Linked DNA regions of Homo sapiens. The protein of the gene in region 3 interacts with the protein of the main gene of each other region in a pairwise test. Each region holds a gene or a part of one and is shown on either strand. Other genes may lie near its edges. The genes, in order: NEK6, SPANXN3, PBX4 and MAPK9.

What was found.
Region 1: the proteins of PBX4 (region 3) and NEK6 interact in binary tests that used the Homo sapiens proteins (3 or more experiments, as listed by UniProt).
Region 2: the proteins of PBX4 (region 3) and SPANXN3 interact in binary tests that used the Homo sapiens proteins (3 or more experiments, as listed by UniProt).
Region 4: the proteins of PBX4 (region 3) and MAPK9 interact in binary tests that used the Homo sapiens proteins (3 or more experiments, as listed by UniProt).

What each region holds. Positions count from the first base shown.
Region 1 is NC_000009.12:124,253,705-124,260,948, reverse strand, and holds the start of NEK6 (serine/threonine-protein kinase Nek6), read right to left. Parts: upstream 3,001-7,244; 5' UTR 2,864-3,000; intron 2,709-2,863; exon of another isoform or gene 2,588-2,708; intron 1,740-2,587; exon of another isoform or gene 1,455-1,739; intron 1-1,454. UniProt on the Homo sapiens protein: Protein kinase which plays an important role in mitotic cell cycle progression. Required for chromosome segregation at metaphase-anaphase transition, robust mitotic spindle formation and cytokinesis.
Region 2 is NC_000023.11:143,514,476-143,521,975, forward strand, and holds the start of SPANXN3 (sperm protein associated with the nucleus on the X chromosome N3), read right to left. Parts: upstream 3,001-7,500; 5' UTR 2,917-3,000; coding exon 2,839-2,916; intron 2,420-2,838; exon of another isoform or gene 2,215-2,419; coding exon of another isoform or gene 2,140-2,214; intron 1-2,139.
Region 3 is NC_000019.10:19,608,677-19,615,698, forward strand, and holds part of PBX4 (pre-B-cell leukemia transcription factor 4), read right to left. Parts: intron 1-7,022.
Region 4 is NC_000005.10:180,289,077-180,296,429, forward strand, and holds the start of MAPK9 (mitogen-activated protein kinase 9), read right to left. Parts: upstream 3,008-7,353; 5' UTR 2,772-3,007; intron 2,200-2,771; exon of another isoform or gene 1,962-2,199; intron 1-1,961. UniProt on the Homo sapiens protein: Serine/threonine-protein kinase involved in various processes such as cell proliferation, differentiation, migration, transformation and programmed cell death.

The DNA.
Region 1 (7,244 bases), on a different chromosome or scaffold from region 3:
CACAGTGCCTGCTACCTTCCTAGTACAGTGGGGAGACCATGGGCTCTGCTCAGACAAGCCTGGGTTCAAATCCAGCTCTGCTGCGTATTAGCACATGGTCTTTGGCGCATTCTCTCATCTCTCTGTGCCCCAGTTTCCTCATCTGTAAATGGGCATCGTGACAGCTTCCATCTTAGTGTTGGTGAGTGGACTGGGTAAAATACAGCACCAGACCTAGCACACAGTATATCCTCAGTAAATGGGGACATGGCCGGGCATGGTGGCTCATGCCTGTAATTCCAGCACTTTGGGAGGCCAAGGCGGGCGGATCACCTGAGGTCAGGAGTTCGAGACCAGCCTGGCTGGCCAACACAGTGAAACCCCATCTCTACTAAAAATACAAAAATTATCTGGGCGTGGTGGCACCTGCCTATAATCCCAGCTACTCAGGAGGAGGCTGAGGCAGGAGGCTCACTTGAACCCAGGAGGCAGAGGGTGCAGGGAGCTGAGATTGCGCCACTGTACTCCAGCCTGGGCAACAGAGTGAGACTCTGTCTCAAAAATAAATAAATAAATAAATAAAAATAAATGGGGACCATCTATCGTGGTGCTACTTTAATGAAATTATGCAAGTCATGTCTCTGAACCTCAGTTTTATCATTTGTGAAATGGGGATAATAAACCCTATCTACGATGAGCAGAAAATGAACGGATGTGTGCTAAAGTACTCAGCACTAGGTCTGTGCACCTTAGCCAGTCAAATACCATATCCCAAGTGCAATGGAAAGAGGAAAGGCTGTGAGGCTGGGCAGGTGACTTCGGATTCTGCCCCCACCTCCTCTCAGCTGCCCCAGGACACAGGCTTGACCCCCGTGTGCCTCAGTTTCCTTGTGCACAAAACCAAAAGCATTTTCTGTCACAGAAGACCAACGGGAGATTCACACCCCCTAGAACGGCTCCCAGCACACAGCCCCTTCTGCTCCGCAAAAGGGAACTTCCTCCCCATTTCCCTCCTCTGCCCTTGTTCAAACCCACCAGAAATGCCACCAGTTAAAGCCAGGCGCTCCATTTCTGGAAACCCAAACAGCTCTAAATCCAGACCAACCTGGGTCTAAGGCCTTCAGTCTGAGACTTTATTTTGTGGAGATACAAACTACTTTTTAGTCATTTCCGAAGCAGACGGGACAGCAGAGGCTGACAAACCACAGGGACCATTTTAAATCCTGGGCCTTTTCTTCTGGGAAGTTAGGCAAGAACCTTCCCAAATGTTTGCCCGTCAGGCTCTCTGCCAGGGAGTGACTCATTCCACGGCTCCCCACAGGCATATTTTATTTGGGGGTGGGGGACGCAGCGAGGGCTTGGCCTTGATGGGGGAAGGAGAGGGGGCATTTCCAGCAAACCCAGAAGGTGTTTTCTTTTTTTCATTTTCAGGAGAAAAAAGAAAAAGAATGTGGGTCTTTTTTGCTTCCTTCCAGGTTTTGTTTGCTAAAAGAAGACGTCCAAAGTTCATTCGGTAAGCTCAAACTCGCTGAGTCCAAACTCGCTGAGTCCGGGGCAGGCGCTTCCAGACGGCTCTGCGTCCCTTTCAATGAAATTCTTCTTCCATTAACGACAGGGTTTTTAAACGTGCCTCCAAGACCTGCCTGCACGTACTGTACACCAAACTAAGGCGACATTTTCCCCCAAAAAAGGCAAGCTGAATTTGGAAAAGTCAGACCAACTAGGGAGCTCTGGAATTTCTAAAGTTTGCCTTAAAGCAATTAAGACTTTCAGCTGCAAAGATTTTCAACAGTTAGAGAGCACGCACACACACAAAAGCCTGTCAGTCAAAACTGCAAGGACAGACCTCGGAAGCTGGTGTCCCAAGCCCGCTGTGATCAATTTGTTACTGTCCTGGGATTCACACTTGGAGCCTAGGAGAGGTATAAATAAATCAAAAGATCCGTCTACTTAGCAGGGCAGGCAGAGAGGCCCCCACATACACAGGCAAGTCTAGGGTCAGCCCCCCAGGCCTGGCTGGAGAGAGACAAGAACAAAGACAGGAGAGCCTGGAGGATATTTAGGAAAACACACGTCCTCGGGTGCCCGGCCGAGGGGCCCACCACAGCCTCCGCTCGCCCAGCCTGTGTATGCAGAGAGGGTCCTGCCAGTGGCCCTGCCGCAGCCTGGCTCTAAGACCTTTGCCTCTGTCAGGCCCAGCCAGGCTCTGAGTCTGCCCTCCTGGCCCCTGGTTCACCGGATCAGGCCCAGCCCCGACCCCCAGCCCATGCCAGGCCGCTTCTCTCTCCACGGGCTCCCTGGCTCGGGGGCCATCACTGTGCAAAGGCCTGGTGGGCGCAAAGGGGGCCGGCCCCTCAACCTCAGTAATAAACACGCTCGCACGGCCCTGCACACTCGTTATACTCACACCCACACAGGCATACTTTCGCCCTTCTAGGCTCACGCATGTGCTTGCACACAAATCACTTTGGAATGCACACACGTGCACACACACACTCCCTGAGACCCGCACGTACTCCCTGCGGCGCCCGGCACACTCCTCCGCCCGTCGTCCCCACTCGGGAAGTGGGTAGCGGGGAGCCATGCCCGCGTCCCCGCACGCACTCACCCCAACAACGCCACCAGACGCTCCGGGGTGCACACGCACACCCGCCGGGGACGCGCACACCCCGGGACACGCGGACACGCCGCCCCCGCCCGCCCGGCCGCCGACACGCTCAGCCCCGCGCGGCCACACTCGCGCCCGCCTCCCGCTCTCCCCCGCGGAGCCGTGGGCGCGCGCCCGCCCTCGGCCCGGCTGGGGGTGACGGCCCCGCCGCCCGGCCCCCGCCCTTCTCCGGGCCGCGGGGCCCCACCGGCCCGGCCCCAGCCCCAGGCGACTCACCGGCGCGCGGGCGGGCTCGGCTGCCGCTGGGGGACCGGTGCGCTGGCCCGCGGGCGGCTGGAGCGGTGCGTCCCACACGAGTTTGCGGCGCAGCGGCCGCACGCCCGTCAGCTCGGTTCCGCCGCCGCCGCCACCGCCTGCGCGGGCCCGCGCGCCCGCGCGCCCGCCCCTCCCCGCCGCGGGGCCGCGCCGCCCCCAGCGCTCGTGCGCGCTGCCGCCACGCAAGCTTGAGGGGCGGGGGGCGCCCCGGCGGCGTCCTTCCTGGGCCTGGACCCCTCGACTCCGCCGAGTTCTGCGGCCGATCCGCTCGGCCGAGGAACCCCTTCCCCATTTCAGAGATGGGAAGACTGAGGCCCAGACTCACAGGGCGCAGGCCGGCGTCTCCCCATCTTCTCCGGCTCTAGACTTATGATGAGGGTCTGCAGTCAGCCAACCCTTGGACTCCTGTGCGTCTTCGGATTCCCCATCGCCTAGCATTGCTCCTACCACAGCCCTAGTCATACTGAAATTGGCACAGTAACAAGCACTTATTGTGCACCAGCTGAATGCAGGCACTGAAGTAGGCTCCAAGAGTATTCCGATGAGGGGAAGGCCCTGCCCCCTGCCCTCAAAGTGCCAGCGACTCTTCATCTGGAGCTCCCACTTCCTGTGGCCCCCGGGGGACCAGCAAGAGCCAATGTGCAGAGGTTTCTGGAAGTAGTAAAAGTCCCCACTAAAGAATGTTGAACGCCCCCTCTAGAAGTCAGAGCCTCCCTGAGACCCAAGCAGCTCAGTTCTCACTTCACCTCCTCCCCGCACCGAGAGCGGCCGCTCCTGGCTGGGCTGTTTCCACCCCTGCTGCCTCCCCTCCACATTCAAAACTGTGCTGCACCCCAGGAGGGCTGGAGCCAGGGACACTGACTGCCTGCTTGGGCGCAGCACTGTACTGGGCACAGGGTGAATGCCCGTCTGGCTTCTGTTTGCCAAATGAGTGGAAGTGCTTCAACTGGCCGTGATCTGTAATAATGACACCAACGGAGCGTCCACCACGTGTGCCAACGTTACCCTTGTGCCCATTTTACAGATGGGCTTTGAGGCTTAGAAATGAAATTTCAGGCTGGGTGCGGTGGCTCACACCTGTAATCCCAGTACTATGGGAGGCTGAGGTGGGAGGATGCCTTGAGGCTGGGAGTTTGAGGCCAGCCTGGGCAATATAGCAAAACCCCATGTCTACAGAAAAATGTAAGAATTAGCTGGGTGTGGTAGTGCCTGCCTGCAGTCCCAGCTACTCGGGACGCTGAGGCGGGAGGGTCTCTTGAGCATAGGAGTTAGCAGCTGCAGTGAGCTATGATCGCACCACTGCACTCCAACCTGGACAACAACAATAAAAAGCAAATTCTTTTGTTCAAAGTCACCCAGATGGTAAGTGGTTGAGCTGGAAAGTGCACGGCAGATTGTCTAATTCCAGTGCCTGTGTGGCCAATCACTAGGCAGCCCTGCCTCAGGAACAGCATAGCCCTGGGCTTCTGGAACAAGAGGGCAGACGAGGCAGCAGCTGGCCCACAGGAGCGGGCCTGGTCCCAGCTCTTGTGGATGAAAATGCAGACATCACAAACCAATGGGGAGGAAATGGATTGTTCTGCAAATTGTTTAGCCGTTTAGCTGGAGATCTGTTTACAGCCTTGCCTCCCATGATATACACCACAATAAATGTCAGACAGATTGAAAAGTTAAATAGAAGAAATAAACACTGCAACAAATAATAGAAAGAAATCGAAGTTCTGAGACAGCGTATTGCAGTGTTACTAGAGGATTTGTGATACTGGCCATATTCATGCAGCAAACATTAGTTCAGTCATTGGTTCACCCGACACATCTATGAGCACCTTCCATGGGCCAGGTACTTTTCTAGGCACTGGGATAAAGGAGTGAACAAAATATGGCCCTTTCTTGGGGCTTCAGTCAAGGGGGAGGGATGGGGTGGGAGGAAGACACTGAATATCTGCCATTTCAAGGATAAGAAGTTTGGGCCGGGCGCGGTGGCTCACGCCTGTAATCCCAGCACTTTGGGAGGCCGACGCAGGCGGATCACAAGGTCAGGAGATCGAGACCATCCTGGATAACACGGTGAAACCCTGTCTCTACTAAAAATACAAAAAAATAGCCGGGCATGGTGGCAGGCGCCTGTAGTCCCAGCTACTTGGGAGGCTGAGGCAGGAGAATGGCGTGAACCCGGGAGGCGAAGTTTGCAGTGAGCCGAGATCGCGCCACTACACTCCAGCCTCAGTGACAGAGCGAGACTCTGTCTCCAAAAAAAAAAAAAAAAGAAGTTTGGTGGAGAAATAACTCGGAAGGGTAGGAGGACCCAGGGGTGCTTTTTTATAGGGGGTGCTGGAAGAAGGCCTTTCTGATGAGGTGACATCTGAGCAGAGGCCTGAATGAGGGAGTGGGAGAAGTCAGTAGGGGCCCACTGTGTGGAGGGCAGGTCCCATGTTCTGGCAGCTATTCAGTTAAGCTACAGAGCAAGAACCAGAAACTCCCTTTTGAAGGAAACTTTGAGAGCCGCACCAGGCCACTGGGAGGAAAGGACTGCCCCCACCCCCAACACACAATATCTATGTAAGACTTTACTGCTTGCAAAGCCCTTCCCCAGCTTCACAGAACCCGTATGACAGATACTTGTGATGTCCTCATTTTCCAGTTAGGAAACCGAGGCTCAGAGAGGTCAAGCAATCTGTCCCAGGTCACACAGCCAATGATAATCAACAGAGGTAGGTCTGGCTGCAGGCAGGCTGAGTGTTAGGGGAATAAAGAAGCCTTGTCCTGGGATACAGGAGTGAACAAAAATCTAGCTCTGACTCTCTTGGGGCTTCAGCCAAGGTGGGAGAGTGGGATGGGAGGAAGACACTGTGAATGTCTGGCATTTCAAAGATAAGAAGTTTGGTGGAGACCAGGCGCAGTGGCTCACCCTGTAATCCCAGCACTTTGGGAGGCCGAGGTGGTGGATCACCTGAGGTCAGGACTTTAAGACCAGCCTGGCCAACATGGCGAAACCCCATCTCTACTAAAAATAAAAAAATTAGCTGGGCATGGTGGCACGTGCCTATAATCCCAGCTGCTCGGGAGGCTGAGGCTGGAGAATTGCTTGACCCCAGGAGGCTGAGGTTGCAGCGAACTGAGATCATGTCACTGCATTCCAGCCTGGACAACAGAGCAAGACTCTGTTTCAAAAAAAAAAAAAAAAAGTTTGATGGAGAAATAAAGCAGGGATAGGTAGGAGGACCCAGGAGTGCTTTTGCATTGGGGGTCCCCCTCCCCCTTGGATGGGAGCAGGGTAGGGGAGGCCCATGCACCCCATTTTCCTGGCCTTCCTCCTCCTCCATCCCTCATGGCCACTTCTTTCCCTCTGTCCTGGGCCCTGTGCAGATGGTCCCAGCTCCTGGTGACACTATGGGGCAAATATCAGGGTTAGCCTGCTCAGAGATTCTTGAATTCCCTGCAGTACTCTGATACACTGACGAGGGCACAGTAGAGTGATAAGGTACAATGCAAGCTGAATCCCACTCAACTTTTGTTTTTAACTCAAAGGAGTTTTTAGGGAGTCCCAAAATGAGTCATCGTGAAGCAGTGCTTTGCAAAATGACACCCAGAATTAGGATGAGCGTCTCCCTGCACACGTTGCCTCACACTTCTGCCCACCGAGGCGTTGTTCAACTGGTCTGGGAGAAAGTCTGTCTCCGTTCACCCCCAAAGAGTTTCAGGATTCAGTATGTGTTGTTTCATTATTTCTCTGCACGAAGGGAAGAGAAACTACCGCTTGCCGGGCACCTTCTCTGCATCTGGCTCTGTAAGAGACAGTTAATTCTTATAGCATCCCTTGAGATAGGGGTCATGATTTATGTTTTATAGATGAAGAAACTGAGGCTCAGAAAATAGCCAGGATTTGAATCCAGGTTAACTCAAGTCCTTTATTGTTGTTAGTATTGGGGGAGGGGGTAATGGGGGAGAGAGGAGAGGCAAGAAGAACTTAGAATCAGGCCATGTTCCTTTGAAGTTCCTTTGTTACAAAATATCTTCTTGCCATCTTCCCGGTAATGGGATTTTTTGTAGGGGGTGAGTTCCAATTTTCCCAGAAGGATTCATTCGCTCTTGTCATCCGGGTGCGATTATTGACAGCAACCCCTTTCCCTCTGCAAGTGTCTTGCTTTGGATGATCAACTTTAGGGTCACCTTGGGTGTCTGCAAAGGCCACTGCGTTGGGGGATTCATTTTTTACATTATACAAAATGGGGGTGTCTTGTCTGCTGGGCTCTTCGCCACATACTGATGTCTGGGTGTCCCACCAAGAACTTCCAGGAGAGTTTAAGCAGTTAAGTCACATTTTTAGGAGCAGCAAACCCTG
Region 2 (7,500 bases), on a different chromosome or scaffold from region 3:
AGGAAGCTATCAAACCACCTCCTTTCCAACACACAAGGTCTGAGGACACTTACCAGGGCAGGACTAGCAAATCAACGTCACTCACATGTCCCCCAGAAAGTGATTCCTATACCTTCTGACAATAGTAGATACATTCTCTGGATGGATAAAAGCTTTTCCCACCACCACCGAAAAGGCACAGACCATTGCTTCTATTCTCTTCACCCATATTATCCACCGGTTTAAACTCCCCTCTTGCATCCAGTCAGACAACGGGCCAATTTGTTTCACAGTTTAACCAACAGCTGGTAAAGGCTGTAAACATTAAATTGGCTTTGCATATTCCTTACCACCCCGAATCTTCAGGGAAACTTTTTTAGAAAACAGCAACTGACCAATCTTCCCTAAAGGTTAAAATGGCCTGGACTTCACTTCTCCCATTGTTCCTCATGCATTTATGAGTCATTTCCCAAAAGCTCCTCAGCCTAAGCCCATTTAAACTCATGTACAAATGCCCTTTTATCCTCCAGAATCTCCCTGTATTTTCCCCCCATTCTATATGGAATACTTGGCCGGCGTTACACCTCACCCAACATCTAATAAGACAGTACACAAATGCTTACTTGACCCAGCCTAAAAGTCCATCCTCAAAATACTCCGCCCTGTCCCTACAACCAGGGGACTGGGTCTGAATCACAGACTCCTCCTCCTCCCCTTTCCAACCTAAGCGGAAATGTTCCCACCAGGTTATCCTAACTACTCCGACTGGGGCAAAGCTAACATCCTTTCCACACTGAATACACCATTCCAAACTAAAAAGAGCACCAGACCCACATCTAGAAATTTCCTCACCCCCATATTATTCTCCTTCCCCGACAGGACCAACCTCACTGTACTTAACAAGAATTCCAGAAGTTGCCAATCCAGAACACCTTAGTCCATAACACTCTCTGTCTCCAATTTCCAATCTTTTATCTCCTACTTTATTTCAGATCTTTCCTGGCTACCCTTCCCCATGTCCCTGAATAGTCCATGCCAATTCGTCATACTAATCCAGGAGGTATGACTGCAGGGCACCTTCCAAAATTTCACTCCTACTCAAATCTCCTCTTTCTTCTTTTGTCCTCTTTGTCTGTGGGATACTCTAAGTCCCCACCCCCAACCTCTGACAGTTGAGCCCCCTTCATCAGCCTCACACCTTTCCTCTTAAATCAGTCACACTCCCCTCTTCCTTCCAACTGTTAAACTTGTTTGTCCACACAAATCCAGCAATTCACAGCCCTTCCTGTCAACCTGGCCACATGAACTCGGTCCAAAATAAGCCTGCATCTCACCTACTTGACCAGTTCATTCCCAAACCTGTTTATAATCTTGATCAGCTAAACTCTTTTTCCCCCAATCCATCAAATCCACCCACACCATCACATACAGGGCTGTCACCCTCCCTCGCCTCATAGCCTCTTAACTGAATATGTTACAAACGGATTCCATAAAACACCTTTTAGAAACCCCTCCCCTCTTGGCTGGAGCCGCTCTTCATATTATCCAACTCAAGGGCGCTCGCTGGAAAACATGCACAAACAATTCCCTCAAGTGCAACCTATATCCTTCTGCCCTGTCAGGGCTACAATGGCTATTAGTTACAAAAACCCATTTCCCCCTCTCTTTCCAAAACCAAACAGCCTCCATCTCCTCCACCACCAACATTTCCTATCAGGCCGTCAGAGGGGCTACCCTTGCTGGCAGCTATTCAACTTGGAAAAATATAAAAGTTAAAACAAAGAATTTCTGCAGAATTCAACACCCACCTTCTCATGGCTTGCCACCATAACCTACAACTTTTGTCTGTCCACCCCCAGTGTCTTCTTCTTTTGTGCCACAAACTCTTATCTCTGCCTACTGGCCAAATGGTCAGGAACATACACCCTGGTGTTTCAGCCTAAACATTAACATTTTGCCTAACAAGCAGACCATCCAGGTTCCTTTAGTAGCTTCTGTCTCATCTTCCTCCACACACACTAAGCAGGCTCTACATCTCATTCTAGTGTTAGCAGAAGTAAACATCTCTGCTGCAGTCAGCACTGAGATAGCAGGGGGCCCCTTTCTTAGGACCCTTAATTTTCCTCCTCCTAATACTACAATTGGCCCATGTATATTTACCTTCATATCCCGCTTTATCTCCCGAAGGCTAAACTCCCCTGTCCAGGCGGCCACCCAGCAACACATTGATACCATCCTTCTCCTCTGCCAAGTCCAGTACCAGTGCCTCCAGGAAAACAACTCTGAAGTCCAACACCCACTGCTTCAAAACCCAAACCCTGATTACAGCTCCCCTATTCGGCAGGAAGCAGCCAGATAATCAACAATGCCCCTCTTCCTTTTATACTAAAGTAGAAGGCAAGAATGTGAGTCCAAACCACCATTTAGTAAGCACCCTGCTATTTTTCAGACCTTGGTCAAAGTGAAACATTCCACGGGGGTTCGGGCCATGAGAAAAATCTTGCCTAATCGTCGTAACACAAGACGGACAAAGGTCCAACTAAAGAAACTTTCCTATCATATCTTGCTGGGCAAAGTTTCAAGATACACCACAATGACATCCCACTGGAAAAAGGACCAAACAGCCTGATCATAAAAACATCTTATCAATATCCTGCCGGGCAGCAAGCCATACTGCCCAGGCCCCTCCCACCCCTACCTACAAGCACCCCAGCCTGTAAGCAGCGGTGGGCTCTGGCATTAAGCGGGTCCCCCACTTCCACAGGTGTCTGCAGTATTCCTGTGTTGCTGTTTGAGCCACCCCCTCTCTGTGTGTCTTTCTTTCACCCTCACCTTCCCTTCAAAACCTGACAATCTTACCTCATCATTTTTTTTGTTATTGGATTCACAGGGGCTCTTCGTCTTCTCCCCATTGGTGCTGGAAGTTGGCTGTTCCATGATTCTGGTTGGTTGTAGAATGTCTATAGTAGGCTCCTGTAGACTGCAGACTTCCACAGCTATGTTGAAGCTTCCCAGTGGGATGTCCCAGAGCTCTTGCCCTCCCTATATATACCCTCCTGGTGACAAGGCAAAGCCACACCCTTGAGCTTTGTTTGATCATACAGGCAGTGTCCCAGCCAATGGCGGTCCTAAGGTGGCTTTGACATCACAAAGCCCCACTGCTGACCACTCCTTGGGCTTGTGGGGGAGGGGTGACAGGGATGTAGAGGAAACCAAATGCGGTTGTTGTTTCAGCATCCCCTGAAGATGCATCCCAAACCGATCTGCCGCCGCTCCTCATTTCTCCATGTTTAATGTTCATGGTTCACATGGAAGTCAGAGGATGATTCCTTCAAGCCCTTCCCCACAGCCATTCCTATGAAGTGATTCATTCTTTTGTCTTCCAGCCCTCACCATGACTTAGTATTTTAGATGTCTCACCTCAAATCCCCCAAGCTAGTGTGGCTACATTTAATTATTAGTTATTAATTACTAGTTACATTTAATAATTAATAATTAATTATCCCATTTCCCTCCTACAGTTCCTTCATATGCACCTTGAAGACCATTTACTTTTAGGCTACTGCCAGGCAAATTTCAACCCATGTTATTTTACTCAATGTCCGTGTAGTTCTTTTAAATTTCCTATTTCCAATCTGCAATAATGGCCTTCAGTCTGTCAAAATTTTAGTGAATAAACATTCTTTACTGTGTATCCTAGTCTTGTTTCAAATGAGGGGTGTATTTTCATAGTAAATGTAGTCTCCCAACATGAATTCTGCCAGTATGTGGGTGGGGGAAGGAGTGGATATTCAAGTGCTGGAAGTTGTTCTCAGTGTTTACATGCAGGATGCTACAATCTAAGACCCACATGTGCACCAGTATGGGCATAGTTATACTTTGTACTGAAGATTGTGTCCAGTGCAAAAAGAAAAATGCATTCAGTTTGGAAGGGGAGAAGTAAAAGTGTCTTTTGTCAAAGACTACATGAAAGTATATGTAGAAAAGTCAATCTATAAAAAAGCTTCTACAATAATTGAGGTTAGCAAGATTGCAGAGTAAGAGATCAATACACAAATCAATTGTATGTTTATATATTAGAAGAGGCAGTGTTTCAGCTAATGGTAGTCCTAGGGTGGACTGGAAGTTAATTTCAACAAATGAAAGTTGAAACTAAGAACAGTGCAATTTAAAATATCACTAAAAATATTAAAGTCTTAGGGATAAATCTGACCAAAAATGTAAATGACTTGTACACTTAAAACTACAAAAAAATTGCAATGATAAGTTAATGACATCAAAAATCCAGATGTATACTTTGATTTTCGGTTGGAAGATTCAATATTGTAAAGTGGCAGTTATTCCAAATTCATCTGTAAGTTCAACTCAATTCTAATCAAAATTCTAAAAAGGATTTTTAATAGAAATTGACAAGATAATTATAATAGTCATATGGAAATGTAAAGTGCCTAGAACAGCCAAAAGAAAAGTGTTGAATCTTAAAAAGCTCTGGATTGCATCACTGTCAATGTTCTAGTTTTGATAGTGTAATGTGGTAGTGTACTGAAGATTTTACCATTGGGAGAGGCTGGTTGAAGGGTACATAAGGCCTCCATGTACATATCTTTGAAACTTCTTGTGAACTTATAATTGTTTCAAAATAAAAAGCTAAAAATGTTTTAAAAGAGAATAAGAGAGAGGGCCAAAGATAAAGAAGGCATGGCCCTAGATTCCTCCCATAGGTTGACACTTGTCCATTCTCTATAGGAAGTCACAAAACGCAATAACGGAAAAAAAAAATTTAAAAATAGAACAAAAGTGAAGTAGACCCTGGATTTTTGTTCCGGTGTTCGTCAAGCTCACATATCTTTACTTCATACACCATAAAATCAATAAAAGCCTAGCAAAATACGCTGCTGACCCTCCAGAAACAAATAATTTATAGCACTCCCATGACTGCCATCTAAACACTAACAAACCAAGCGAACCTTGTATACATTTTTTTTCCTTAGTGAATTCCAGATGTTGTCTACAGATTAACAACTCCATTTAGTAAATTCTTACAAACTAACATCTAAGTATTTATTTCTTTTGGACTTTTGCCTGCAATTAACAGTGAGAACATCAAACTGTCATGTCATAAAAAACAAAACAAAACAAAACAAGCAAGAACCAACAGCCATGCCGCATCAAATAGGGTAGGTCAAAAATTGATTAAAATTGCTGAAAATAACAGCTTTCAATTACCTTATTACCTTTTATGATTGTTTTCTAAATTTGTTTACAAAAAATATTTTGATGGGTATATCACTATCCAGTGAAAATTCATCAAAATGTTAGGAACACATTCAGTGGCATATTTCTATTGAAAGATTACAACTTACTTTATAAAATAACTCCTATTGAAAAACTTAGTGATTATGTTATATTTTCCACTAAAATGAATAATAAAGAATTAAAGGTCATCAGTGTACAATGAGTTCATTGTATTGATTTTTTTTAAAATTTCTGATGTGTTCAGTTTTTAAGAATATTCTTCTTTTTCATATCAGGTTGAGGAACTACTCAAAGTGACTCTCCCATATCATGCTGTAAGTCAGAGATGGACCCAGGGTCAGAACCAGGGACTCCTTTAAACCTTTTCACCTCTTGTTTTTGAGCCTTTGTACAAGTGATATTACAGACTGACATTAGTTTAGTTATAATAATAACCCTCAACTGCATTCTTAATGATTTTTGTTACAATTTTTATCTAAGGTAGGTTTAAACACCACACAAAGTACCAGACACAGGATAGGATCTGCTTGGGATGTGCAGCATTCCATGGCCACAAAGAGCAAGGTGTTAGAAGCCAACCGTATATTTCCCTCTGGAGCACAGACAGTTGAAAAGCAATCATTGAGAAAGAGTTGAGTATGAAAGAGAAATACATCCTACTACTGGCTTTACGTGTGACTGAATGAGTGGCTTTGAAAAATACCAGCACGATTACCTCCACTGCAACCACCACTACCTCTACACTAATATTAATACTACTACTAGCCATAGATTCTATACACCAAGAACCTATTATATGTCAGGCTCTGCTCTAAGCACATAGTATCTAGGTCAAACAGATGATACATCCAAAATGGGATATTTGACAAATATTTGTCTGCAAAGGGACCATCTATAAACAGGTAGATGCAGGGGGAACGTCAGAGATTGTGCTAGTAGCAGCTGCCATAACTCCGAACCCAAAGGAATGAGAGCAGGGAGGAAGTGGTTACTAGAATCTGGAAAAATCAATAATCATGAGAAAATTGCTGTCTTCAGAAGTACAGTGACCTCCACCAAGAGACTCATCCAGCTCAAGGTGACTCACAGGGATGGAGCCAGGGGAATAGGTCCACAGCCCTCACTCTCCTTCCTTTCTCCCTCCCACCTCCAACTCTCCTTGGGGCTTTTCATTAGCCAAACCCAGTGGACACCAGAGTCCAGGAGCCCATTGAGAGAATCCTTCCTAAATAGCCTCTCAGGACAGCACAGGTGAAGAATGGTGGTGAGTGGATCTGGAAAGGCAGAGGGAAGATGTTCAGCAGAGATGCAATACTCACAGCAGTCCCAGGAGGTAGATATCATCATGCGGGTCTGATTTACTGATAAGGAAATTGAGGCTCAGAGAAGCTCAATAACACAGTAATTGTGAAACAGTGTTCAAACCAAGTTCAAGCTGCCCTACATCTCATATTCTTTCTGGTACTCTGGGTAAACTGCGTACCTTCTGTAGGCTTCAGATCCCTCAGCTGTAGCATGAGTCAATTGGAACAACCAATGTCATTTTTTAAAAATATGCTATGAGGCCGGGCACAGTGGCTCACAGCTGTAATCCCAGCACTTTGGGAAGCTGAGGCGAGCAGATTGCCTGAGCTTAGGAGTTCGAGACCAGCCTGGGCAATATGGCAAAACCCCATCTCTACTAAAAATTCCAAAAATTAGACAAGCATGGTGGCACATCCCTAGAGTCCCAGCTACTCAGGAAACTGAAGAACGAGAATTGCTTGAACCCAGGAGGTGGGGGTTGCAGTGAGCTGAGATGGGGCCAATGCACTCCAGCCTGGGTGGCAGTGAGACCCTGTCTCAAAAAATAAATAAATAAAATAAGATAATAAATAAAAAATATGCTATGATTCTATAATCCTCACTTTTTAAAAATTTTATTATTATTATACTTTAAGTTTTAGGGTACATGTGCACAACGTGCAGGTTTGTTACATATGTATACATGTGCCATGTTGGTGTGCTGCACCCATTAACTCGTCATTTAGTATTAGGTATATCTCCTAATGCTATCCCTCCCGTCTCCCCCGACCCCACAACAGCCCCCGGTGTGTGATGTTCTCCTTCCTGTGTCCATGTGTTCTCATTGTTCAATTCCCACCTATGAGTGAGAACATGCGGTGTTTCGTTTTTTGTCCTTGTGATAGTTTGCTGAGAATGATGCTTTCCAGTTTCATCCATGTCCCTACAAAGGACATGAAGTCATCATTTTTTTATGGCTGC
Region 3 (7,022 bases):
ATGCATGCTTGCACCAAGCCTACAATGCCGCATCCACTTTCTTTGCCTAGGCAAAGCCTCAAGTCCAGATCTTGGCCATCTCCTCAAGGCTCCTTGTCCCCCGCCTGACTTCACCTAGACTCCAGAGTCATGCACTCTGATTGCCCATGCTCTACAAGCTCTAGTCTTGCTGAAGGGCTAACTCCTCATTGCCCTCTCTGGTCCCCGTGTCACCGCACTCTCCAATGTCTGCCTCTCCAAATAATGAATCTCCTTTCAGAACTCACTGCTGCATTCCCAAGCCCAGCACCAGACCTGGCACAAAATACATGTTTATTGAGTAGATGACATTTAATTTGCGAGAATGTACTTTTAAAAGTGTCCTGTAAAGCCCGAGCCTGACTGTCTGATCTCCCACGGCACCCAATCAGCTGGGCTCCTCTGAGCAGGAAGCGATGTCAGATTTAAGTGAGTTTTGTAGGATCCCTGGGAAAAGCAGAGACAGGTGGCAGGCAGTACAGCCTCAGAGTTCAATAGAGCATGCCCAAATCTCCATCCAACTACCCTCCAGTTATCTGGCCACTTGATTCCTTATCTAGAAACACAGTGAAGAGCCAGGCGCAGTAGCTCACACCTGTAATCCCAGCACTTTGGGAGGCTGAGGCGGGTGGATCACCTGAGGTCAGGAGTTGGAGACCAGCCTGACCAACATGGAGAAACCCCGTCTCTACTAAAAATACAAAATTAGCCAGGCGTGGTGGTGCATGCCTGTAATCCCAGCTACTTGGGAGGCTGAGGCAGGAGAATCGCTTGAACCCGGGAGGCGGAAGTTGTGGTGAGCCGAAATCGCGCCATTGCACTCCAGCCTGGGCAACAAGAGCAAAAATCCATATGAAAAAAAAAAAAAAAAAAGAGCCAGGCGCAGTGATTCACGCCTGTAATCCCAGCACTTTGGCAGGCCGAGGAGGGCAGATCACGAGCTCAGGAGATCGAGACCATCCTGGCTCACACGGTGAAACCCGGTCTCTACTAAAAATACAAAAAAATTAGCCGGGCGTGGTGGCGGGTGCCTGTATTCCCAGCTACTCGGGAGGCTGAGGCAGGAGAATGGCGTGAACCCGGGGGGCGGAGCTTGCAGTGAGCCGAGATTGCGCCACCACACTCCAGCCTGGGCGACACAGCGAGACTCCGTCTCAAAAAAACTAAAGAAAGAAAGAAAAACAAACAGTGAAAAACCACCCACTTCCTAGGGTTCTGGGGAGGGGTAAATGAGGGAAATCCTTATTGTCATCATCATCAACCACTGTGTTCTGATAGAGGCACTCGGTAGCTGTCATTTAAATGAGTGAGTGGTACTTGCTCCTTTGTGAAATTCTACACATGGCTTTACTTTTCATTAATAAAGCTATTTCAAAGGGGATTTTGCCAAAAGACTTTTAGATAGCTTCAGGGAATTGTTTTAAAACTAACACAATTTGCCAGGCACGGTGGCTCACGTCTGTAATCCCACCACTTTGGGAGGCTGAGACGGGCGGATCACCTGAGGTTGGGAGTTCGAGACCAGCCTGAACAACATGGAGAAACCTCGTCTCTACTGAAAATACAAAATTAGCTGGGTGTGGTGGCACGTGCCTGGAATCCCAGCTACTCGGAAGGCTGAGGCAGGAGAATTGTTTGAACCCGGGAGGTGGAGGTTGCGGTGAGCAGAGATTGTGCCATTGCACTCCAGCCTGGGTAACAAGAGTGAAACTCCATCTCGAAAACAATAAAAAATTTAAAAAACTTACAAAAAAATAAAAACAACACAATTCAAGCTGGGCAAAGTGGCTCACACCTGTAATCTCAGCACTTTGGGGAATCCGAGGCGGGATAATCATTTGAGGTCAGGAGTTCAAGACCAGCCTGCCCAACATGGTGAAACCTCGTTTCAACTAAAAATATGAAAATTAGCCGGGTGTGGTGGCTGGCGCATGCATGTAATCCTAGCTAATCAGGAGGCTGAGGCATGAGAATCACTTGAACTTGGGAGGTGGAGGTTGCAGTGAGCCGAGATTACGCCACTGCACTCCAGCCTGGGTGATAGAGCAAGACTCTGTGTCAAACAACAAAAACCAACACAATTCAACTCTTAGGAAAAGTACACCAAAGACAGCAAGACTCCTCTGGCACTAGACCAAGTCAAGCTAAGCCTGCAAGCAAGCTAAGAAGAAAGACTACAAGGCACGAAGTCAACTGGCATCTAATTAATCTCTTTAGGGATACTGAAAAAGAAAATTTTAAATATGAAATCCTACTTCCCAGGTTTGGACTGATAGATCCTCTCATGCTAATGCTATCTGGCTCTGGGAAATTCCACATCATAAATTCCCCCTAGAACCCTTGCATTCTTTGAATGGGTGTGCGGAAGGCTGAATGCTCACTGACATGCTTTATAACTATGTATGAATATAAGGTCAGAACATACATAAGTATACATACTTTATAAGTATATGTGTTCTGACCTTATATTCACTATTGCAAAAGTACCAAGCCTAGGGGAACACATTTCAGGTATCAGTTCACACCTTGCCTCTTCAGTAAGTTTAAAGGATAGTCAAAATCACTTCATTATCTCCCCTTCATAATAGGAATTTAATCCATATCTAGGCAAAGTCAATCTGCAGAAATATTGGAGGGACTAAGAAAGTTATGCAAATCTCTACTAGTTGAGGTCATAATAGTAAAAATCAAATTAAAAAGAGAAGGCCGGGCATGGTGGCTCACACCTGTAATCCCAGCACTTTGGGAGGCCGAGGCGGGCAGATCATGAGGTCAGGAGTTCAAGACCAGCCTGGCCAAGATGGTGAAACCCCGTCTCTACTAAAAATACAAAAAATAGCCTGGTGCAATGGCAGGTGCCTGTAATCCCAGCTACTTGGGAGGCTGAGGCAGGAGAATCACTTGAACCCAGGGGGCAGAGGTTGCAGTGAGCCGAGATCATGCCACTGCATTCCAGCCTGGGTGACAGGGTGAGATTCTGTCTCAAAAAAAAAAAAAAAAAAAGAAAGAAAAGTTCAGAGATATGTTTTCTTCCTAAGAAAACCTATGCAGGCATTGCTGGGTTGCCTAAAACCAACTTCCAAATACATTTTTGGTTTTAGGTATGCCATCTCACACACCACACTGCTTGCTCCTAAAACATTATAACAGTGAGCATTTAGAATGGGTGGGATGGCTCATGACTGTAGTCCCAGCATTTTGGGAGGCTGAGGCAGGAGGACAGCTTGAGCCCAGGAGTTCAAAACCAGCCTGGGCAACATAGTGAGACTCTGTATCTACAAAAAAATGTTAAGGCCAGGCACAGTGGCTCATGCCTGTAATCCCTGCACTTTGGGAGGCTGAGGCAGGCAGATCACCTGAAGCCAGGAGTTCTAGACCAGCTTGGCCAACATGGTGAAACTGTGTCTCTACTAAAAATACAAAAATTAAGCCGGGCATGGTGGTGCATACCTGTACACACCTGTAATCCCAACTACTCGGGAGGCTGAGGCAGAATTGCTTGAACCCATGAGACGAGGGTTGCAGTGAACTGAGATCGCACCACTGTATCCCAGCGAGGGCAACAGAGTGAGACTCTGTCTCAAGAAAAAAACAAAACAAAACAAAAAACCCAGGTTTGAAGAGAGAGCTATATTTTCCTTCTGAAAACAAACTTACGGCAACAAAACATGTTCAGAGGGCCTCACGACTGAGATGAAAAATTCCTTCTTGCTAAACAGTTGAGTTCAACTGACTGCTGGGGTGATAAAAGGGGTGACTGGCACATTGAGAGTGGGCAGGATCAGAAAGATTTTCAAAAGCCTCACAGGATCAGTTGATCAGAAGAGACAATCTGCTTCCCAGCCCAGGTTGGTAATCTACCAGGCTGCAGGGTTTACTGTGAGGAGCTGTATTTCCTCCAGAGGGGTGGAAATAGCCCATTTGAGGATGGATGATTTTTGTCTGGACTTGAGTGAACTTTAGGGCTTTGAGTTCATCTAAAGGCTAGGTCCAAAGAAATGAGGGAGATTTGAAGCTTCAAAGTCTCGAAATAAAAGCCCCGGGGGTCATCCCAATTCAGAAAGAGGCCAGAAACCAGGAACCAGCTACCTAACACCTGTGTTATCAAGCATGAATAACGCCCCCCACCACACCATTTAATTTCTTTTTTTTTTTTCTCTGTCATCCAGGCTGGAGTGCAGTGGCACGATCTCGGCTCACTGCAACCTCCGTCTCCAGGGTTCAATCGGTTCTCCTGCCTCAGCCTCCTCAGTAGCTGACACATACTACAGGTGGGCATCATCATGCCCAGCTAATTTTTGTATTTTTAGTAGAGGTGGGGTTTCTCCACGTTGCACAGGCTGGTCTCGAAGTCCTGAGCTCAGGTGATCCTCCTGCCTCGGCCTCCCAAAGTGCTGGGATTACAGGCGTGAGCCACTGCACCCAGCCTAATTTCTTAGCCTTAAAACAAAAAGAGCTATCTTTGAAAATGGTAAAGAAGTAACTGGCTGGCAGGGCGTGGTGGTTTATGCCTGTAATCCCAGCACTTTGGGAGGCCGAGGTGGGAGGATCACCTGAGGTCAGGAGTTTGAGAGCAGCCTGGCCAACATGGCAAAACCCCGTCTCTACTAAAAAAATACCAAAATTAGCCGGGCGTGGTGGCAGGCGCCTGTAATCTTAGCTACTCGGGAGGCTGAGGCAGGAGAATCTCTTGAACCCAGGAGGCAGAAGTTGCAGTGAGCCAAGAACACGCCAGAGCGAGACTCTGTCTCAAAAAAAAAAAAAAAAAAAAAAAAAAAAGTAACTGGCTGCATTCCATTCTAAATCTAAAGCCTGTCTAGGGAAACTAGAATCTCAGGAGATTGCTGCAAGGAAAATGCAGCAGCCCTGGGGCTGTGCTGGGCCTGAGGAAGGCCACATCTGAGCAGAGCTCACCCCTTAAGCAGCAATATCCCGGTCTGGAAAGTACAAAAGTAGCTTCCAGGACACACCCAAAGCTCTGCCTCTGCGGTGACATTCCTGGGTGTGTCAAAACCATCTTCCCCCTTTCCCAACTCCTACTAATCCCTCTAGAATCTCCTCAGTGTCATGAAACTACTGAATGCAAGGTGCTAGGCATTGATCCTGGCTCTGGGAACACAAAGTATAATAAAGCCACTGCTCTCCGACTAGCCTAACAGACATCACGGAAGGCACCCTCTCCTGGCACAGCTCTTCTGTGCTAGGAATTACCTCTACACAGCACATTCCTGTTATAACAATTATTTACAAGTTGGTCTCCCACACACCCTACTTCTCAGTGGGCTCCAAGAAGGCAGAGAACATCTTAGCCATCTTGGTTTCTCTAGCACCTGGTACAATGCTCCAAAAAGAATAAAAACACTGGTTCACGTCTGTCATCCCAGCACTCTGGGAGGCCAAGATGGGTGAATCACTTGAGCTCAGGAGTTCAAGACCAGCCTGGACAACATGGTGAAACCCCATCTCCACAAAAAATACAAAAATTAGCCAGCCATTCATTGGTGGTTTGAGGCTGTAGTCCCAGCTACTTGGGAGACTGAGGCTGGAGAATCACTTGAACCTGGGAAGCAGAGGTTGTAGTGAGTTGAGATCATACCACAGCACTCCAGCCTGGGTGACAGAATAAGACCCTGTCTCAAAAACAAACAAACAAACATGGCCCGGCGCAGTGGCTCACGCCTGTAATCCCAACACTTTGAGAGGCCAAGGCGGGTAGATCATCTGAGGTCGGGAGTTTGAGACCAGCCTGGCCAACATGGTGAAACCCCATCTCTATTAAAAATACAAAAAACTAGCCAGGTGTGGTGGTGCACACCTGTAATCCCAGCTACTTGGGAAACTGAGATGGGAGAATCACTTGAACCCGGGAGGCGGAGGTTGCTCACTAGCCGAGATCGCGCCACTGCACTCCAGCCTGATCGCGCCACTGCACTCCAGCCTGGACAACAGAGTATGAGACTCCGTCTCAAAAAAACCCAAACCAAACCAAAAAACAGCCAAACAAACAAACAAAAACAAACAAACAAACAAAAAACCACAATGAAAACAGTTGGAGGAGCCAGGCTCAGTGGCTCATGTTTGAAATCCTCGACCTTTGGAAGGCTGAGGCGGGAGGATTTCTTAACTCAGGAGTTTGAGACCAGCCTGGCCAACATAGGGAGACCTAAAAAAATAGAAAGATTAGTCCAGGTGTGGTGGCTCAGGGCTGTAATCCCAGCACTTTGGGAGGCCGAGGTGGGTGGATCATTTGAGGTCAGGAGTTCAACACCAGCCTAGCCAATACGGTGAAACCCTGTCTCTACTAAAAATACAAAAAAAAATTAGCCAGGCGGTAGTGGCACACGCCTGTAATCCCAGCTACTCAGGAGGCTGAGGCAGGAGAATTGCTTGAGCCTGGGAGGCAGAGGTTGCAGTGAGCTGAGACTGCACCACTGCACTCCAGTCTGGGTGACAGAGTGAGACCCTGTCTCCAAAAAAAAAAAAAAAAAAAAAAAAAAGAAAGATTAGCCAGGCGTGGTGGCACAGGCCTGTGGTCCTAGCTACTCAAGAAGCTGAGGTGTGAAGATTGCTTGGGCCCAGAAGGTTGAGGCTGCAGTGAGTCATGATGACACTACTGCACTCTAGCCTGGGTGACAGAGCGCGGCCTTATATAAAAAAAAAAAAGCCAAAGAAATAGTTGTATGGTGACAAGGACTCTAATTTCTCAAACAGAGCATCTGAAACTACAAAAAGTGTCAACATTCCCTGAGAAGCAAAGGAAAGAAAGTTTGAAGAACAAATTTACTTTCTCTCCCCAAACCATGAACTTGAGAGCAGGAAGAACTTGAGAGCTATGCCAGAACCCAGTTCAGTACCCAGATATTGTAAAGGTCCGATAAATATCGGCCAAATTTGTTAAAAATTCATTGAAGAACAGGCCAGGCACAGTAGTTCACGCCTGTAATCCCAGCACTTTGGGAGGCTGAGGTAGGCAGATCACCTAAGGTCAGGAATTTGTGACCAGC
Region 4 (7,353 bases), on a different chromosome or scaffold from region 3:
CAAAAATAGTTGCCCTATTGGCAAATCAATAGTCTCAAGAAGAAAAAAAATCTGGTCTCTGTTTTATCTTATGCCTCATGAAAACAACTGGTTTACTCGCTATTAACTGGTTTGTCTGGTCCTTTTCTTTATCCAGAAAATTAAGAATATTTTATCTTAGACACATTCAAGTATCCCCTCTGTTGTTTATTTACGGGACCAAATAAACAGATTTTAATCTGTGAACAAATTAAAGTCCTGGCACCCTGAAAATTAAATTGCCAGGAAAATCAAAGCTGTCAAAAGAGAAGTCTATGCAAAAATAGTATTGTTTTTAACTCTGCAGGATCCTTTTGAAGAAAAAAAAAAGTTAAATGGAGGAAAACATTAAATAGATTGGTGGTCATTCTTCCAGAACAAGTTAAAAGCCAAAAGAGAATACTCAGAGCTGAGGGACCCAGGAAAGAATCCTTATCTGGGAAGTGATCTGGGTTCGAACTCCACTCACCAGCTGCTTGCTAAGAAACAGACTACTTAGACTCCTGAGCTTCCGTTTCCACAGGGCTCCAGTTACAATCAAATGAGTATCTGGGCTGGCACCTGGGCAAACAGGGCCTGGCTCCCCTGGCCTTAGGCTACCTTTCCTGCTCTCCTCACAGCTCCTCCCTCCCACACAGCCAGTCCTGGAGGATGACGATCCTGCAACCAAGCTGAATGAATCTGTATTTGGCTTGGCTCACAGCATTAAAAAAAAATTTAATTAGCTATTGCCAACATTTAAAAATCAGAACAAATGTGGAGTGCTGCCTTCCTTTTTAGAGACAGGGTCTTGCTCTGTCACCCAGGCTGGAGCACAGTGGTGTGATCATAGCTCACTGCAGGCTCCAAATCCTGGGCTCATGGGATCCTTCCACCTCAGCCTCCCAAGCAGCTAGGACTACAGGTGGATGCCACCACACCTAGCTAATTTCTTAAAATTTTTTGTAGAGACAGATCTCGCTACGTTGCCCAGGCTGGTCTTGAACTCCTGGCCTGAAGTGATCCTCCCACATCAGCCTCCCAAAGTGTCTTGAAATTACTGGCGTGAGCCATGGCACCCAGCCAAATTCCACCTTCTTCTAGAAAACTGCTGGGTAAGGTTCCTGTTCTTTAGGGTCCCCACGACTCTGTGTCCTTACACCTGGCCCTCCAGACTGATTCTCAACTCCACAGTGGCCTACGGTCCTTCCTTGGCCCTGCTCCTTCACACCTCTGTGCCTCTCCCTGCCTAGCAAATTTCTTATCACCCTCAAGGCCCCCCAGCACCACCTGTCACCTCCTCCACATTTCCATGGCATAGCCCCTCCCCTATAGCAAGGGTTGTACAGTCCTGGAACTAAGTGTCTGCATGCCTGCCTTCTCTACTGGGCTCCTGGGCTCTCTCGGGAAAGGGACCCCGTTGCTATCTGCCTTGTGTCCGTAGGGTCTAGCAGAAAGCATGACCTAGATAATGCAGAATTCAGTAAATGTCTCTTGTATGTGTGGAAGAAAGCTACAGCTAAACTATTATAAAAATGTGAGATTTTATATCACAGCTTGTTCCAACAGTTAGCAATTAAAGGGGTCAAGGACACCAAAATGTTTCACAAAATAGAACAAGCTTCCATCTGCTTACAAGTTTCACACGCTAATCAGAAGTCACTAAATGAACAGATAAAGCAGAGACAACAGGCAGGCTGGGCCATTTCTTTGATCATTCATTCATTCATTGAGCTGATACTACTGAATACTTCCTGTGTGCTTTCTAAGCACTGGGGATAAAGCAGTGGACAAATCAGACAGCTACCTGTTTTCACAAAGTTACATCCTAGTCGGGGAGACAGAAAATAAGCAGGCAAATAAATAGAATAGTTTCAAACCAGATGAGAGCTAGGAAGGAAATTTTTTAAATAATGAAATAGCATGACTAAGGGAAGAAAGAGGGTGGTCGAGGAGGGCCTCACCCAAAACGAGACATCTGACCAGAGGAAGGAGCAGAAAGAGCTACTTGTGCCAAGATCACGGAGACAACTCCAAAGACGGGGAAACAGCAAATGCAAAGGTCCTGGGGCAAATGCGGGCTGGCATGTTCAAGGCGGGCGAGATGAGTGGGACGGGGCAGCAGTCTTCTGGGGGAGGGGCGCGGTGGTAAGGGATTCGGGCTGGGTCCCCTCTGGCACTGCTGGACACCGAGTGTGCAATGACAAGGCAAGAGAGGAGTGCGCGGGGAGGCGGGAGGCTGGGCGGGTGGGGAGGGGGTTCCTACACCACTCACACCAGCACGGGCCAGCACCCTGCCCAGTCTTCCACAGATGCACACCGGGGTCCTGCCCAGGCGTCTGCATACATTCACACAGCCTGACAACAACCCTGTCCAGAAGAGACATTTCCCCACCTTCCCGAAGGCAAAACCGCGGCAGAGCGAGGGTCAGTGCCTTGGCCAAGGTCGCGGGGACGCGACCCCGGGCCCCTGGGCACCCGGCGCAGGAGTGCAGCTGTCTGCCCCACCTCCGGGAGGGATGGCGCCCGCAGACCCCACGGGCAGGTCGGCCGGGCCAGGCCGGTGAGCAGGCCCGCAGCCCGGGGCTGCTGACAGCCGGGCGGAAGGGGGCGCCTGCGGCATCCCCCAGCACAGGGGCGACGGCTGCGGCTGCCAGGGCCCCGCAGCCCCCGGCCCGCCCCGAAGCCCCCGGCCGCGCGGTTCCCTCACCGCCCCTCCCCGCGGGCCCGGCCCGAGCAGCCGCCGCCAGGCCTAGCCCGCCCGCCGGGCTCACCTCGCCTCCCCGCCGCCGCGCCACGGGGAGAGGGCGGGCGGGCGGACTGGCGGCGCTGCGTGCTAGTCACTCCTGGCTCCGCGGCCCCGGCTCCGCCGCCGGCCCGCCCCGCTCCGCTCCGCCCCGCCGCCGCCGCCGCCGCCGCCGCCGCAGTGGGTGTGAGGGGCGCCGGGGCGCTGCGACCCTTCCGGTCCCGCTCCCTTCTCCGCCGCTGCCGCCGCCGCGGCGCCCGGTCTGACAGACCCTCGCGCCGACCAATCAGCGCGCGGAGAGCGGAGCAGGCGCGGCCAATGGCGCCTGGGGGGCGGGCCGATGGAGGGTGGCGCGGGCGGGGTCGGGGGCCGGGTCGGGCGCCCGAGGTCCTGGGCCGGGGTTCCGCGGGTTCTTCGCCCCCGGGCCTTTCAGTGGCGCGGGCCGAGTGGCCATGGCGCTCGGGTGCGCGCAGTGCACGCGGTGAGCTGGAGACGCAGGCATTGCGCGGCCCACCGGCTGAGCCCGCTCTCCCTGCGAGGGGGGCGCAGCTCGGTGGAGAGGGTGGCCCGGAGGACCGGGAACCGGGCTGGAGGCGCGCGGGGCTCACACCGCGGGGTCCGCGGGGAGCCGGGCCTCGGGCTGCAGGTGCAGGCTTGTGGCGGTGAGGCGACTGGAGCGGCACGGGAGCCCGCCCGTTTCGGGGAGAGCCCGGGGCGATCGCGGGGGGAGGCCGGCCTGGCGTCCGGGAGCCCGGCGTGCTAGGGCCCGGTAGGCGGGGCGGGCCTCGCACTCGGTTGCTCGCTGCGGCGCCGGAGGAACGGGTCTATGGGGGTGTGGGTGAGGCCAGAAGCCGGGTCGAAGAGGGGGAGGGGGTGCGAAGAGATGGCGGTGTGTAGACAGGTGACCCGGTGGGTCGGTGACGCAGGAGGAGACTGCGCTTGGTGGCGGGATCACTTAGTTGACAACATCTAAAAATTAGGAGGTGCGGCAGGGCGCGGTGGCTCACGCCTGTAATCCTAGAACTTTGGGAGGTCGTGGCGGGTGGACTACCTGAGGTGAGGAGTTCGAGACCAGCCTGGCTAACCTGGTGAAACCCCGTCTCTATTAAAAATACGAAGCAATGAGCTGGGCGTGGTGGCGGGCGCCTGTAATCCCAGCTACTCGGGAGGCTGAGGCAGGAGAATCACTTAAACCTGGGAGGCGGAGGTTGCAGTGAGCCGGGATTGCGCCATTGCACTCCAGCCTGGGTGACAGAGTGAGACTCTCTCAAAAAAAAAAAAAAAAAAAAAAAAAAAAAAAAAAAAAAAAAGGGAGGTGCTCAGTCAAGCCTCTGAGAGGAGTGGGGGGCGGGGCGAGGAGTCTCTTGCTCAGAGCCCCCTAGGGACTGGGACCCGTTGACTCTGAGCTGCTTTTGAGGCTGGATCAGGTACCAGCGGCCTGGGGGTCGTACAGGATGGGAGAGGCCGGGGCTTGGGATGTTGCCAGATCTACGTTGAAAAGTGAAGCAGGAAGAGAGGCACTGAGGCTGGGCACATGGGGAAAACCGTGGAGAGCCGGCCTTTGGGGACTAGAAGAGTGGGAACAATGGTTGACAAATGGTGAGTGTGGTGTAGAACAGCAGTAACACAATACCAGGATCCACAGAGTGGCCAGGGCCAGAGTGGGGAGAAGGAACAGGACTCTGCAGATGGGGAGGGTAAGGGGCTGGGTGGCGTGAAGGGTGGTTGCAGAATTTGGGGAGGGCAGCTAGCCTGTGACCCAGGTTCCAAGGGCACTGAGGTCTGGGCCAGGCCGCTTGGAGGCACCAGAGCCTCAGAGGAGGGGTGGGGTAGAGGAACGGATCCAGCATGGTGTCCCCCTTGGCCACCAGAGGGAGTTTTCTAAATTTGAGCATGGCTCATCGCTGCTTGAAATTCTACGTCACAGTGTGGCCTGCATTGAGGAGGGCCCACACCTGTCGCTACCTCAGACTCACCTGCCACCTGCCTCAAGTGCATGAGAGAGAACAGGAAACCAGAAATTGTCAGGATCGAGGATTATGGGAAAAGAGTAAAAGCCTAGCTGTCAGATCTGAGGTTCCACCAAGGAGCACTGATGGGTGCTTCTCATTAGGAAGGCGGTGCGGTGGCTCACACCTGTAATCCCAGTACTTTGGGACGCCGAGGTGAGTGGATCACCTGAGGCCAGGAGTTCGAGACCAGCCTGGCCAACATGGTGAAACGTCATCTCTATTAGAAATACAAACATTAGCTGGGCGTGGTGATGGGTGCTTGTAATTCCAGCTATTCAGGAAACCAAGGCAGGAGAATAACTTGAATCCACGAGGCAGAGGTTGCAGTGAGCCGAGATTGCTCCACTGCACTCCAGCCTGGGCAACAGAGCAAAAACTGCATCTCAAAAAAATAAAAACAAAAAAACAGAGGGGACACCAGTTCCCAGCACTCCAGGCCTAACTTCATAGCACTCACATCATGTCAAGTGAGTAACCAAAAATCAGTGTACATATGTACACAGCTATACATATCTCACACTAAGTTTTCTGTAAGAGTTCTTTTTATTGCAGAGACACTGCTTTTTTTCTGGTTTATGAAATACAGTGAACATTTATGGACACAAAGCTGAGGTGACAGGGTGGGGAGGGGGGCCTTGGAACAGCACCAAGAATCCTGGTTGAACCCTCCAAGTGAAAAGATCCTGCCACGACATACGTGAACCAGGTGTGACACGTGAGCACGTCTCACCTGATCCGGCCTATGGTGGGGAGAAGCAATTGAGGAAGGCCTTCTGGGCAGGAGGAAGTTGTTGCTGAGGCTGCCGAGCAGGATGTGTTGGGCCTGTGACTTAGGCAGAAAGGGCGCTCAGGCCCACATGCTCAGATGTGAGGACCTGCTTGCTGTGTTCAGGGAGCCACAAGTCACCTGGTCTTAGGGAAAGGTGAGGGGACTGGAGAGTTCTGAGGACCTTGAGGTAGATTGGCACTGCCAGGCATGTAGGCTGGCTTTAGCTCACTGATACGCCTTGTTCAGCCCAGAGAGGTTTTCTTTTTTTAATTGATTAGTTGATTTAAGAAACATTTAGATTTGGGATGAGCTGTTTTGGATGTTTATCCTCAATGAAACTCATGTTCAAACTTAATCTCCAATGTGGCAGTACTGAGAGGTGGGGCCTCTAAGCGTGGTTGGGATTAACCTGTCGATGGATTCATGGATTAAAGGGTTATCACCGGAGTGGGACTGGTGACTTCATTAGAAGAGGAAGGAAGACCTGAGCTGGCCTGTGAATATGCTCCGCCCCCTGGCCATGTGACACCTGCGCCACCCTCAGGACTCTGCAGAGTCCCCAGCAGCAAGAAGGCCCTCACCAGGTGCAGCCCCTCAACCTTGGACTTCTCAGCCCCCAGGGCTGTAACAAATAAATTCTTTTTTAAAGTAAATTACCCAGTTTCAGGTATTCTGTTATAAGCAACAGAATAAGAAACAGACTAAGACAAGAGCACAGCGGGGTGGAGGAGCTAGGGGTGCCTGGGGCATTGGGGACCTGTCCGGAGGCCAGCTGTGTATGCAGCCACAGTGCCAACGGGTTTCTGTGATCCTGATATCCCCCACCCTTGACTGGCCTGGATTCCAATCCGACTCTTGTCAGCTGTGCTCCTCTGGGCAAGGGATTCACTTCTGTCTGCCTTGGTTCTGTAGGAAGTGGCATGGAGAAGGACAGAAGCAGGAAGAGCTGGGTGCGGCCCATGCAGCAGGGATGGTGTAGGTCCTTATGCTGACTGCCTCTGTCCCCTCAACACTTTGCCTGCCCTCCCCCCATTGCACTAACCCACATCTTCCCTTCTCCCCTACAAGGACCCAGAGATGTGCTAGAGGGTGTAAGTCGGGGCTGTCCCAGCTGTGTGTTGTAGAAAACTAAACTGCACTTAAACCAATGGGGACGTTTACTGGGAGGTGCCTGTAACATCATACCCAGGGGAGGTAGGGGCAGAGCTGGTCTGGAAACTCTAGGGCCATGGAGGCCACTGCAGGCCCAAATGGAGTTTGAAAACCCACAACAATGGACTCTGATGGTCCCCCAGACAGGGCTTCCATTCTGGAACTAGTCAGCCATGCTGGGCAGACAGGCTCATGTGAGGACATGGCAGGGAAGGGCAGAATTGGGAAAGGCAGAAGTCTGGAAGTTTCTTCCATGGTGATGATTAGAATGAGGGCATCTGAGCTGGGGCGCAGCTGAGGGTGTGGCACTGTATGGAAACAGGGTTATTTGGGGGCTGTATAACTGAATGCTGAACCCAGTGGCCCTTAGCCCTCCTCCTCCGGGAATCCCCCAGAGCACCAGCAGCTGGGACTGTCCTCAGGCAGGGAGCCAGCAAGCTGTTCTCCAGAAGTCTGACCAGCCCTGAAGGGAAGACCTGAGGTATGAACATTATGACACCCCCACCCCCACCAGATTTCCCAGCAGTGAATCCTGCATCAACCAGCCCTACCATGCCTTAGACCTTCCAGTCAGCCCCCCTTGAATCTGAACAGACAGCTCCATGTCATATGGCTAAGAAAAGTAAGACAAAAAACTGCATCTTGAAAGAAACAGACTCTGTGGAGAAGGAAAATTC